Regions from separate parts of the Homo sapiens genome. Here region 2 is linked to region 1. The links come from fine-mapping of genetic effects on gene expression. A gene starts in region 1. The other region holds a variant in brackets. All regions are shown on one strand. Distances are from middle to middle.

What was found. PIP is the estimated chance that this variant, and not a neighbour inherited with it, causes the effect. A credible set is the group of variants that fine-mapping cannot tell apart.
Region 2: its variant is the best candidate, but not a certain one, in a credible set for the expression of RIN1 in whole blood (INTERVAL, PIP 0.51).

The regions. Positions count from the first base shown.
Region 1 is chr11:66,334,047-66,339,558 of GRCh38, reverse strand. It overlaps RIN1 (Ras and Rab interactor 1), which reads left to right and starts at 3,125. Exons shown (of 10, transcript NM_004292.3): 1 at 3,125-3,242; 2 at 3,401-3,581; 3 at 3,683-3,797; 4 at 3,877-3,949; 5 at 4,061-4,152; 6 at 4,308-5,045; 7 at 5,335-5,512. The coding sequence starts at 3,157. It overlaps BRMS1 (BRMS1 transcriptional repressor and anoikis regulator), which reads left to right. Exons shown (of 10, transcript NM_015399.4): 8 at 774-838; 9 at 1,277-1,316; 10 at 1,670-2,220. The coding sequence ends at 1,677. RefSeq lists an enhancer at 1,791-2,645.
Region 2 is chr11:66,659,920-66,664,919 of GRCh38, reverse strand. It overlaps a transcript of RBM4 not described here. Among named protein-coding and RNA genes, the nearest start is that of RBM4B, 15 kb to the left of the region's middle. The variant C/G (reference allele first, on the strand shown) is at 2,948.

The sequences.
Region 1 (5,512 bases):
TCATATCCCACCCTCCTCTTGGAAGTCCTGCCTGTCCCGACTGTCCAGGGCTCATCTCAAACGTTACCTCCTCTGTGAGGCCTCTTCTGGTCTTACCCTGGTGCCTATGGCTTCACTTTCCTGTGTGCTTCTGTGCCCTACCATGGGGTACCCACATCCCAGAGGGCACTGGCTGCCTCCACCCCTTCCTAGGCAGGGCTAGCTTAAGCTTAGTCCAGGGCCTGCTGTGCTTTCATCTGTCCTGGCAGAGCTGAGTCCTCCTGCACCCCTGAGGGTATTCCTGCAGCAGCCAGTCTTAGTCATTATGGCAACCTGGTGCTGGAGAGCAGGCCCAGGCAGGGAGGGAGGAATCTGGAAGGCCATGACTTGAGTGAATGGAAGGTGAAGGCATGGAGACATCAAGTAGGGAGCACTGGGGGAGGGAGAGTTGTCTCTGAAGGGATAAGCCCTGCGTCTGTCTTTGGATCAGGGAAGGGGCCAGGTTAGGGCCAGTGCTGCAGAGTGAGATGGGATGGGCCTCAGCCAGCTGACCTAAGACGAGGTGAGGGTGAGCAAGGGACAGGGAACAACATTTGGTGTCCTCCATAGACTTGGTTCCAGGACGACCCCTGGAACCAGGGGGTTAAGAGGTAGGAGGTGGAACCTGACCTCGGACCCAGGTCCTCAGCTCCCACTCCATGCTGTCCGCTGTACCCCCACTCCTGAATGTCAGGTGGGTGGCCCTGCCCTCGTCACCTGCCACCTCCACTAGGCTTCCTTGACCCCCACCACAGGCCCATACATCGTGTACATGCTTCAAGAGATCGACATCCTGGAGGACTGGACAGCCATCAAAAAGGTGGGGGCCGCTGCTGCCCACGTGACCTGCCCCACCTCAGGGCCCCCCACCCTGGCAGCAGCTCTGCCATCTGCAGGCCTGGGAGTTCTCTGCTCACCAAGGCTTCCCCATCTTCAGCCCAGAGTCCCTGGATCGCAGTTGGCTCACAAGTCCTCTTGCTCAAGGCGGCCCTGGGAAAAGGGATTTCTAGTCTGTGTCAGCCCCTTCCCGTTCTGGGGCAGGTTTTGATGGGGTGGGAGGGTGGCGGGGAGGCGGGAGAGCCGCTGAGCTGGCCAGCAGTCAGGAGCATGGGAGCTCTGCCTGGGTGGGGCCTATGCTCCCGGTCCTGGGGGCACAGCACTGAGGCAACAGCCCACAAGCCACAGAGGTGGGGGGTGGGGCAGGGATTGCCAAGCTGGAGGTGGGCTCTCAGGGGAGCTTTTCTTCTCACCCACCCAGGCTAGGGCAGCTGTGTCCCCTCAGAAGAGAAAATCGGATGGTAAGAACCATGGCTGTTGCATGGCCTTCCCTGCCCCCTTGCCATCACCTTTCCTCAGCTCAGCTTCCAGGAAGGAGCCCAGAGAAAGGCTGTGACTGTGTCAGAATCAGTGGCTCAAGAAAGTTAGGATGGTCTAGATTTGAGGGGCTTGTGGGAGTTTGAGGAGCAGGAACCAGGATGGGGCTGGGGAAGCTCTGGGTTGATGGAGCTCCCACTCAGGAGGGGTCAGGGAGGGCTGTGGAGCTGCCCAGGAGGCCTGTTCTGGGCCAGCCCAAAGCCACTCAGTAAGTGGCTGCCTCCTTCCTTTCAGCTTCCTAACTGGTGACAGTTTTCTTCTTCCCACATATGCACAGGACCTTGACCCTGCTGTTCACAGCCAGGGGGACCCTCAGAGCAGCTGGCACTGCACCCAGGATTCTCGTCTTCCTCCTGCAGACAGGCGGACCCACAGGCCCCTCAGGGTCTGCCCAGCCAGGCTCCTGTGGTGCTGCTGGGCCCTCCCACTCCATCTGGCACTGGCCTGGACTCCTCCTCTGCCCTCCTCGAGGCCTGCACAGCTGTGGCCGTGGAGCTGACCTGACCAGGCAAGGCTGCTGTCTCCATCCCTGAGCCGCCTGCCACCTCCCACTCCTGAAGATCCATCTCTTGGGGCTCCCCTGACAGAGAAGACAGCCGAAGTCAAAGCCACATCCTCTTGCTGATGTTGGATGCAGGCTGTCCGGCCTCAGGGCCAGGGAGCCAGTTTCCACTGTGCGGGAACTCTGAGTCAGACGTGATTATCTGGGGGTCTGTCCACCCTGGCTGGATCTGGAGGCAAGATGCCAGGCCCCCCAGGTGTTCTCAGGGCAGTTCTTGGTGTCTGCTTCTCAGATTCCAAGGACTGGAATTAAAACCTTTCCTGGGACTCTGGCGTGCCCTGTGTGTGTGTGTGATTTACCTTGCAAGAGAATCAGGGCTCCCGTGGGGAGCACCTGAACCAGGCCGACTTCTAGGGTGCCTGCAGATTGCCACTCCTCACACTACCCAGCAGAGGCTAGAGCACTGTGCGTGGGGCCAGGCTGGGGAGGGGGAGGTGGGCGCTGGGCTGCCTGGCGCTGGGCAGAGTCAACATATGGCACCGGGAGAGTGCCTCGGCGGGGAGGGTGGATGCGTGTGCTTGGAGCCTGGGTCATGTCTGCACCTGTCCCAGTTGCCTGGCAGATTGGCAAGGCAGGCTGGCAGAGCCTGCGTGCGTGGGAGGCAGCCGGCAGCACCGCCATGTGCTGACGACCTCACAGCCAGACTCCCCCTGGTTAGCACTGAGTGTCAGAACCACCCCCAGAACCTCAGTTAAGCAAATAGGTTGGTTTCCATGGAGACATGGCATATTTTCTCCATGGCAACCTAAAATCCTAAAACCCAGGTTCAGGAATGAGTCATCTATGGACAGTAGAGGGTGCTCTCCCACAAGGCTGACCTGAGGCCAGGGGCAGATGAGCAACTGACCACAGAGCCAAAGGTGCCCCCAGAGCATGGCTGGGGCCTGTGGGGACTGAGGCCGCTTAACCACTTCCCGCCCACGTGTGCAATGTGAGTAGCTGGTGAGGCTGCAGGAGGCCGTGTGTGGAGGTGGCATCCCCCAGCTGGGGCCCTCAGAGCAGGGCTAGCATGGAGGGGACCCCTGACCCCCAAAGCAGGGTCCAGAACAGAGGAGGCGGGCACTGGCCAGGCAGGGTGGACACACAAGAGTTAACTGGCGGGTGTGACAGGCGGACCGCCCTCAGGAAGTGTTACTCACTGGGGATGTGCGTGCCTTGCCTTGGGACTGGATTCTCTTCCTGAAGCGAAGGAGCTCCCAGCCATGGAAAGCCCTGGAGAGTCAGGCGCGGGCTCTCCTGGAGCCCCCAGCCCGTCCAGCTTCACTACTGGGCACCTGGCGAGAGAAAAGTTAGTGAAGTTGGCAGGGCAGCCAGGTGGGGCAGGGAGGGGCTGCGAGAGGAGGGCCTATCCGGGGATAGAGAAAGTGGGAAACCCGGGAGTGGGGAAGAGGAGAGCAAGGGTCCCAGCCCCTGGCTCCCTGCTCAGATCTGGGTGCCTGCCCCCAGGCCAGCCCAGGACCCACTGTATGACGTGCCCAATGCCAGCGGCGGGCAGGCAGGCGGGCCGCAGCGGCCGGGGCGCGTTGTGAGCCTGCGGGAGCGCCTGCTGCTCACCCGGCCCGTGTGGCTGCAGCTGCAAGCCAACGCAGCGGCCGCACTGCACATGCTGAGGACCGAGCCCCCGGGGGTGAGTCTTGCCCCACACTCCAGGGACTGGCCAGCCAGGGGTGGGAGGGAGAGGGATGGGACGCCAAGGTCCTGAGCTGCCTGAGCCCTATCCACTTGCAGACGTTCCTCGTGCGGAAATCTAACACCCGCCAGTGCCAGGCCCTGTGCATGCGGTTGCCTGAAGCCAGTGGCCCCTCCTTCGTCTCCAGCCACTACATCCTGGAGAGCCCTGGCGGTGAGGGGCTGGCCTGGCGGGAAGGGGCTGGAAGCAGGGAGGTTCCCCAGAGAAGCACCTCACTTCCCTCCTCTCTCAGGCGTCTCCTTGGAGGGCTCGGAGCTCATGTTCCCAGACCTAGTCCAGCTCATCTGTGCCTACTGCCACACCCGGTGAGTCTGCCCGCAGGGTGCCTGGTGTCCACGGGCCCTGCTCCTTGGGACAGCCCATCCTTCCCGCCCTCTTCGGCCCTCACTCCCTTCTGCTCCCCTCTCTGGCCTCAGGGACATCCTTCTCCTCCCGCTGCAGCTCCCCAGAGCCATCCACCACGCAGCCACTCACAAAGAGCTGGAGGCCATCTCCCATCTGGGCATTGGTAAGGGCTTCCTGCCACCCATTGCACAGATGAACAAGCTGAGGCCGAGGGGAAGGCAAGGCTCGCAGCACACCGCCCGAAGCCCCTGCCTTGCCTTGGTTGGGAAACTTCCCCTAACCAGTCCCGGAGGCCCCAGTCGGTTTCTTGTTCCCTAGAGTTCTGGAGCTCCTCCCTCAACATCAAGGCTCAGCGGGGCCCGGCTGGAGGCCCAGTGTTGCCCCAGCTGAAGGCCCGGTCCCCTCAAGAGCTGGACCAGGGCACCGGAGCCGCCTTGTGCTTCTTCAACCCCCTGTTCCCGGGGGACCTAGGGCCCACCAAGCGGGAGAAATTCAAGAGAAGCTTCAAAGTGCGCGTGTCCACAGAGACCTCCAGCCCCCTGTCTCCACCTGCCGTGCCACCTCCCCCCGTCCCCGTGCTGCCAGGGGCAGTCCCCAGCCAGACAGAGCGGCTGCCCCCTTGCCAGCTGCTACGGAGGGAGAGCTCAGTGGGGTACCGCGTGCCAGCAGGCAGTGGCCCTAGCCTTCCGCCTATGCCCTCCCTCCAAGAGGTGGACTGCGGCTCCCCCAGCAGCTCCGAGGAGGAGGGGGTGCCAGGGTCCCGGGGGAGCCCAGCGACCTCACCCCACCTGGGCCGCCGACGACCTCTGCTTCGGTCCATGAGCGCCGCCTTCTGCTCCCTACTGGCACCGGAGCGGCAGGTGGGCCGGGCTGCGGCAGCACTGATGCAGGACCGACACACAGCCGCGGGCCAGCTGGTGCAGGACCTACTGACCCAGGTGCGGGCTGGGCCCGAGCCCCAGGAGCTGCAGGGCATCCGTCAGGCGCTGAGCCGGGCCCGGGCCATGCTGAGTGCGGAGCTGGGCCCTGAGAAGCTGCTGTCGCCTAAGAGGCTGGGTGAGGCTCCGTCTCTCCATAGCTCCAGCACTGCCCCATCCGACCCTCTGCTCCCCTCCACAGCGCCAGCCTGTCTGATTCTGTTCTGCTGCTTTACAAATCCATCTTGTCTTACCACTGTTCGAGAGAGTTCCATCCCCTCTCTCCCCCAACTCTTCCGTCTCACCCAGGCTACCTCCTCCTGCTTTCCTTGCCTCTCCTCCCCGATTCTACCCCTGCTCCCTTCTCCCCTTGCCTCTGCCCCCCATACCCCCAGTCTTCCCCTGACCCCTCCCTGTCCCTCCGGCAGAACATGTCCTGGAGAAGTCATTGCATTGCTCTGTGCTCAAGCCTCTCCGGCCCATCCTGGCAGCCCGCCTGCGGCGCCGGCTTGCCGCAGACGGCTCCCTGGGCCGCCTAGCTGAGGGCCTCCGCCTGGCCCGGGCCCAGGGCCCCGGAGCCTTCGGGTCCCACCTGAGCCTGCCCTC
Region 2 (5,000 bases), 330 kb before region 1:
GATATAGAAGGAAGGATTTAAGCCCAGGCATGGTGGCTTACACCTGTAATCTTAGCACTTTGGGAGGTTGAGGTGGGCAGGTCACTTAAGCCCACTGAAGTTCAAGACCAGCCTGAGCAACATGTTGAAACCCTGTCTCTACCAAAAATAAAAAATCAGTTGGCCAGCTGGGCGTGATGGCTCACGCCTGTAATCCCAGCACTTTGGGAGGCCAAGGTGGGTAGATCACCTGAGGTCAGGTAGACCAGCCTGACCAATATCGTGAAACCCCATCTCTACTAAAATACAAAAATTAGCTGGGCGTGGTGGCAGGCGCCTGTAATCCCAGCTACTCAGGAGGCTGAGGCAGGAGAATCACTTGAACCCAGGAGGCAGAGGTTGCAGTTAGCCAAGATTGCACCATTGCACTCCAGCCTGGACAACAAGAGCGAAACTCCATCTCAAAAGAAACAAAAACAACAAAATTAGTTGGCCAGGCGCGATAGCTCACGCCTGTAATCTCAGCACTTTGGGAGACCGAGGCAGGCAGATCACCTGAGGTCAGGAGTTTGAGACTAGCCTGGCCAACATGGCGAAACCCTGTCCCTACTAAAAATACAAAAATTAGCCAGGCGTGGTGGCGAGTGCCTGTAGTCCCAGCACTTGGGAGGCTGAGGCAGGAGAATTGCTTGATCCCAGGAGGCAGAGGTTGCAGGGAGCCGAGATGGCACCACTGTACTCCCATCTCAAAAAAAAAAAAAAAAAAAAACAGCTGGGCATGGTGGTGCATGCCTGTAATCTCAGCTACTCAAGAGGCTGAAGTGGGAGACTCTTGAGCCCAGGAGGTTGAGGCTGCAGTGAGCTGTGATCATGCCACTGCACTCCATTCTGGGCAACAGGAGGCCCTGTCTCCAAAACAACAAAAAAGGATTTAGGTTAGTGCTGTGGCTTCAGTAATAGGTGGTAGGAAGTTAGCCAGATTCTTGAGACACTGCTAAATTTGCTACAGCTGGTGGTGAGGCTACTTTTCTCTAACCAGAGCTGCTCTTAAACCAGTTTAAAGGCTAACAGACTCAGATTAGTAGTGCTAGGAGTAAGCCCTGCATCAGAAAAAGGCTGAGCCAGATTCTCTCCAAGGACCTATCACATTAACTAAATTTGACTTCATAGTTTTCTGGCTCATATTTACAAAACAAAAAGAAAACATATATACACACACACACACACACACACACACATATACACACACATTTTTGCCTAGTTACCACCCCTCTCCAGTGTTTCTCCTTTTTTAATTTTTAAAAAACAATTAGGCCAGGCACAGTGGCTCATGCCTGTAATCCCAGCACTTTGGGAGGCCAAGGCACACGAATCACGAGGTCAGGAGATCAAGACTAAAATACAAAAAATTAGCTGGATGTGGTGGCGGGCGCCTGTAGTCCCAGCTACTCGGGAGGCTGAGGCAGGAGAATGGCGTGAACCAAGGAGGCAGAGGTTGCACTGAGCCGAGATCACGCCACTGCACTCCAGCCTGGGTGACAGAGCGAGACTCCATCTCAAAAAAATAAAAAATTAAATTCACTTATGAGCTATTAAAAGAGGTCTGTCTTCCCAAGGTGCTAATATTCTGCTAGGATTAGGCTTTGGCTAAAATATTCATACATAGTACTTTGAGCAGAAAAGCAAATCACATATTAATGATTAGCAGTGACATTTTGCAGTAAAGTATGTCTTCTAGATTATGGACATCTTATTTATCTTTGTTTAGATCCCCATAGAACACATTTAATGATGGACTCAACTCTACTTAAGCTTTATTGTACTTTATATGGAAATGTTGATGTGTAAATTCTGACTACATGTGAAATTTTACCTACAATAATAAAGCATTTACCTCACATATTTTATACTTAATCTTGACAGGTGAAGCAAAAATTTTCCCTTATTTCTTAGGGGAATGGTCTGACAATCTACAGAAGTTAACCTGTCCATCCATGCACACATTCCAACCAGTGGTGATGTACATAAGGCTCATGTTAGCGTCAGTATTCCCCAAGGAAGCAAGACTGTCTCTGTTTTACAAAAGGGAAAATAAGGCAAAGATGCTGGGATTTTCTTATGATCTGCAAGGCACTATGCAGAGCCAAGAAAAAAAATTTGCAGGTTTTGCTGGCCTCAGCAAAATCTCTGGTGGTTCTGTGCTAGGTTTCAACCAATTTAACATAGGAAGTTTAACATATACCAGGTGCGTGACTCACGCCTGTAATCCTAGCATTTTGGGAGGCTGAGGCAGGTGGATTGCCCGAGCTCAAGAGTTTGAGACCAGCCTGGGCAACATGGTGAAACCCCATCTCTACTAAAAATACAAAAAATTAGCCGGGCATGGTGGTGTGCACCTGTAATCCCAGCTACTAGGGAGGCTGAGGCACAAGAATCGCTTGAACCCAGGAGGCAGAGGTTACAGTGAGCCAAGATCACGCCAATGCACTCCAGCCTGGGCAACAGAGTGAGACTCTGTCTCAAAAAAATAAATAAATAAATAAAAGTATCTTGATTTCTATGTCATTGGCACAAGAAAAAAAATTTTCTGCAAAAGAGTTCTATATCATCACTGCCCAATAACACTCCTGGCAGTGATGGAAGTGTTCCATATCTGTGCTGTCCAATTTGTGGCTACTGTGGTTACTGAGTACCTGAAATGTGGTTTATTCCACTGAGAAACTGAGTTTTTTATTTAATTATAATTAGCTACATGTAGCTAGTGGCTACTCTATTGGACAGCAGTTTAGATAGTAAAATAAGCTGCTCATAGGTGGAGAAAAAGCCCTGCAGAATTGCATAATTTTTATTTTAGAAAACCTTTCACACCAAAAGAGTACTGTTGAGTAGGACAAATGTATTTTTTTGTTTTGAGATGGAGTCTCGCTCTGTCACTGAGGCTGGAGTGCACTGGCATGATCTCGGCTCA[C/G]TGCAACCTCTGCCTCCCAGGTTCAAGCAATTCTCCTGTCTCAACCTCCCCAGTAGCTGGGATCACAGTCGCGCGCCACCACGCCTGGTGAATTTTCGTATTTTTAGTGGAGATGGGGTTTCACCATATTGGTCAGGCTGGTCTTGAACACCTGACCTCAGGTGATCCACCCACCTCGGCTTCCCAAAGTGCCGGGATTACAGGCGTGAGCCACCACACCTGGCCAATGTTTTTATTCCTAAACCTTACTTCTTATATGATAAATTGCATATTGTGAATACAAAATTCCTTTAGTTCACCAAGTTTCTCACTATAGACCATTTCAGAGTCCCATGAGGCCTCTCAACGCTAAAAGCTCCTGAATTCATTTATCAACTGTTTGAATTCCTACTATGAGCTAGGATGTGGGAACATGGTGATGAATGAGGCATATGTGGTTTCTGTAGCCTCAGATCTACCCCCTTCCTCAGGTTTCCAGCATGGCACAGAAAGACACTAGGCCCTCAGGGCACTCAAGGTGCTGTTAGAAACTTGTCCTAAGGGCAGAAAAAGGTTGGCTGCCTGCAAGATGGACCAGAAAAGGGAAGCAACTTGCCCCAGATTGGTTTCATAGCTTGTCAGGATTTTGCTTACAAACCTGGTCCTCAGGAAGTCACCTGGCCTAGGAGATTTGGGAAAAGGAAGGAGGGGAGAAATAAATATTCCTGGGAAGAGCTGTCAGTTTGTTGGAAGATCAATCTCGGCTTTCTTCAGACCAGAGCTAGGCTCTGCCGCTGAGGAGAAATGAAATGCAAGAAATGATAGAATCAGCTCCAGGAACTTGCAGGAGAAGAATGAAAAATCTGACGAGATGAATTCAATCTGAAGTGCCTTAGGTTTGCAGGGCCTTTGAGAATCCAGGCCAAATTCAAACCGTGTATCTGTCACCCCTGCAAATCCACAAGAACCCAATGAGGTAGCATCACTGGCTCTCCCAGCAATTAAGGCTACTGAGATTTAGAAAGTTTAGGCCGGGCACGGCTGAGCGCAGTGGCTCACGCCTGTAATCCCAGCACTTTGGGAGGCCGAGTCGGGTGGATCACGAGGTCAGGAGATCGAGACCATCCTGGCTAACATGGTGAAACCCTGCCTCTACTAAAAATACAAAAAAAATTAGCCAGGTATGGTGGCACATGCCTGTAGTCCCAGCTACTCGGGAGGCTGAGGCAGAAGAATGGCGTGAACCCGGGAGGCAGAGCTTGCAGTGAGCTGAGATCGCACCACTGCACTCCAGCCTGGGCGACAGAGCAAGACTCCATCTCAAATTAAAAAAAAAAAAAAAAAGTTTAGGTCGGGTGCAGTGGCCTACCTACACCTGTAATCCCAGCACTTTGGGAGCCGAGGTAGAAGGATCACCTGAGGTCTGGAGTTTGAGACCAGCCAGGACAACATGGCGAAACCCTGTCTCTACTAAAACTACAAAAAAATTAGGCAGAAGCCTGTAATTCCAGCTATTCAGTAGGCTGAAGTAGGAGAATCACTTGAACCCAGGAGGCAAAGGTTGTAGTGAGCCAAGATCGTGCCACTGCACTCCAGCCTGGTTGCAGAGCAAGACTCTGTCTCAAAAAAAAAAAAAAAAAAAGAGAGACTCCCATCTCAAAAAAAAAGAAATTGTGATAAGTACCACAAATTACACAAAATGGGTCCAATGGCAGGGAATAATGGGAGGACATATCTACTAAGCTACAGGTGGTTTGGGAGGGCATTCCAATACTTGATCCTGAAGCTAAGACCTGAAGTTAAGTTAGCTCTAAAGCAGTAAAGAGAAAGGTCCCTTCAGATTTAAAAAAAAAAAAAAAAAAAAGGCCCTGAGGCAGGAAAGAGCTCAGTGTATACAAGGATCTGAAAGGAGAGTCAGTATGGTCAGAAAAGGATAGATAAGCAGGGAAAAGGGCCTGAGATAATAAAGTGTGACAGAGGAAAGGCACGTTCAAACTAAGGGATTGGGCATTTTACTTTAGATAAAAGGGGAAGTTGCTGAAAGGTTCTAAGTAACGAAAGAAACATCTGATTT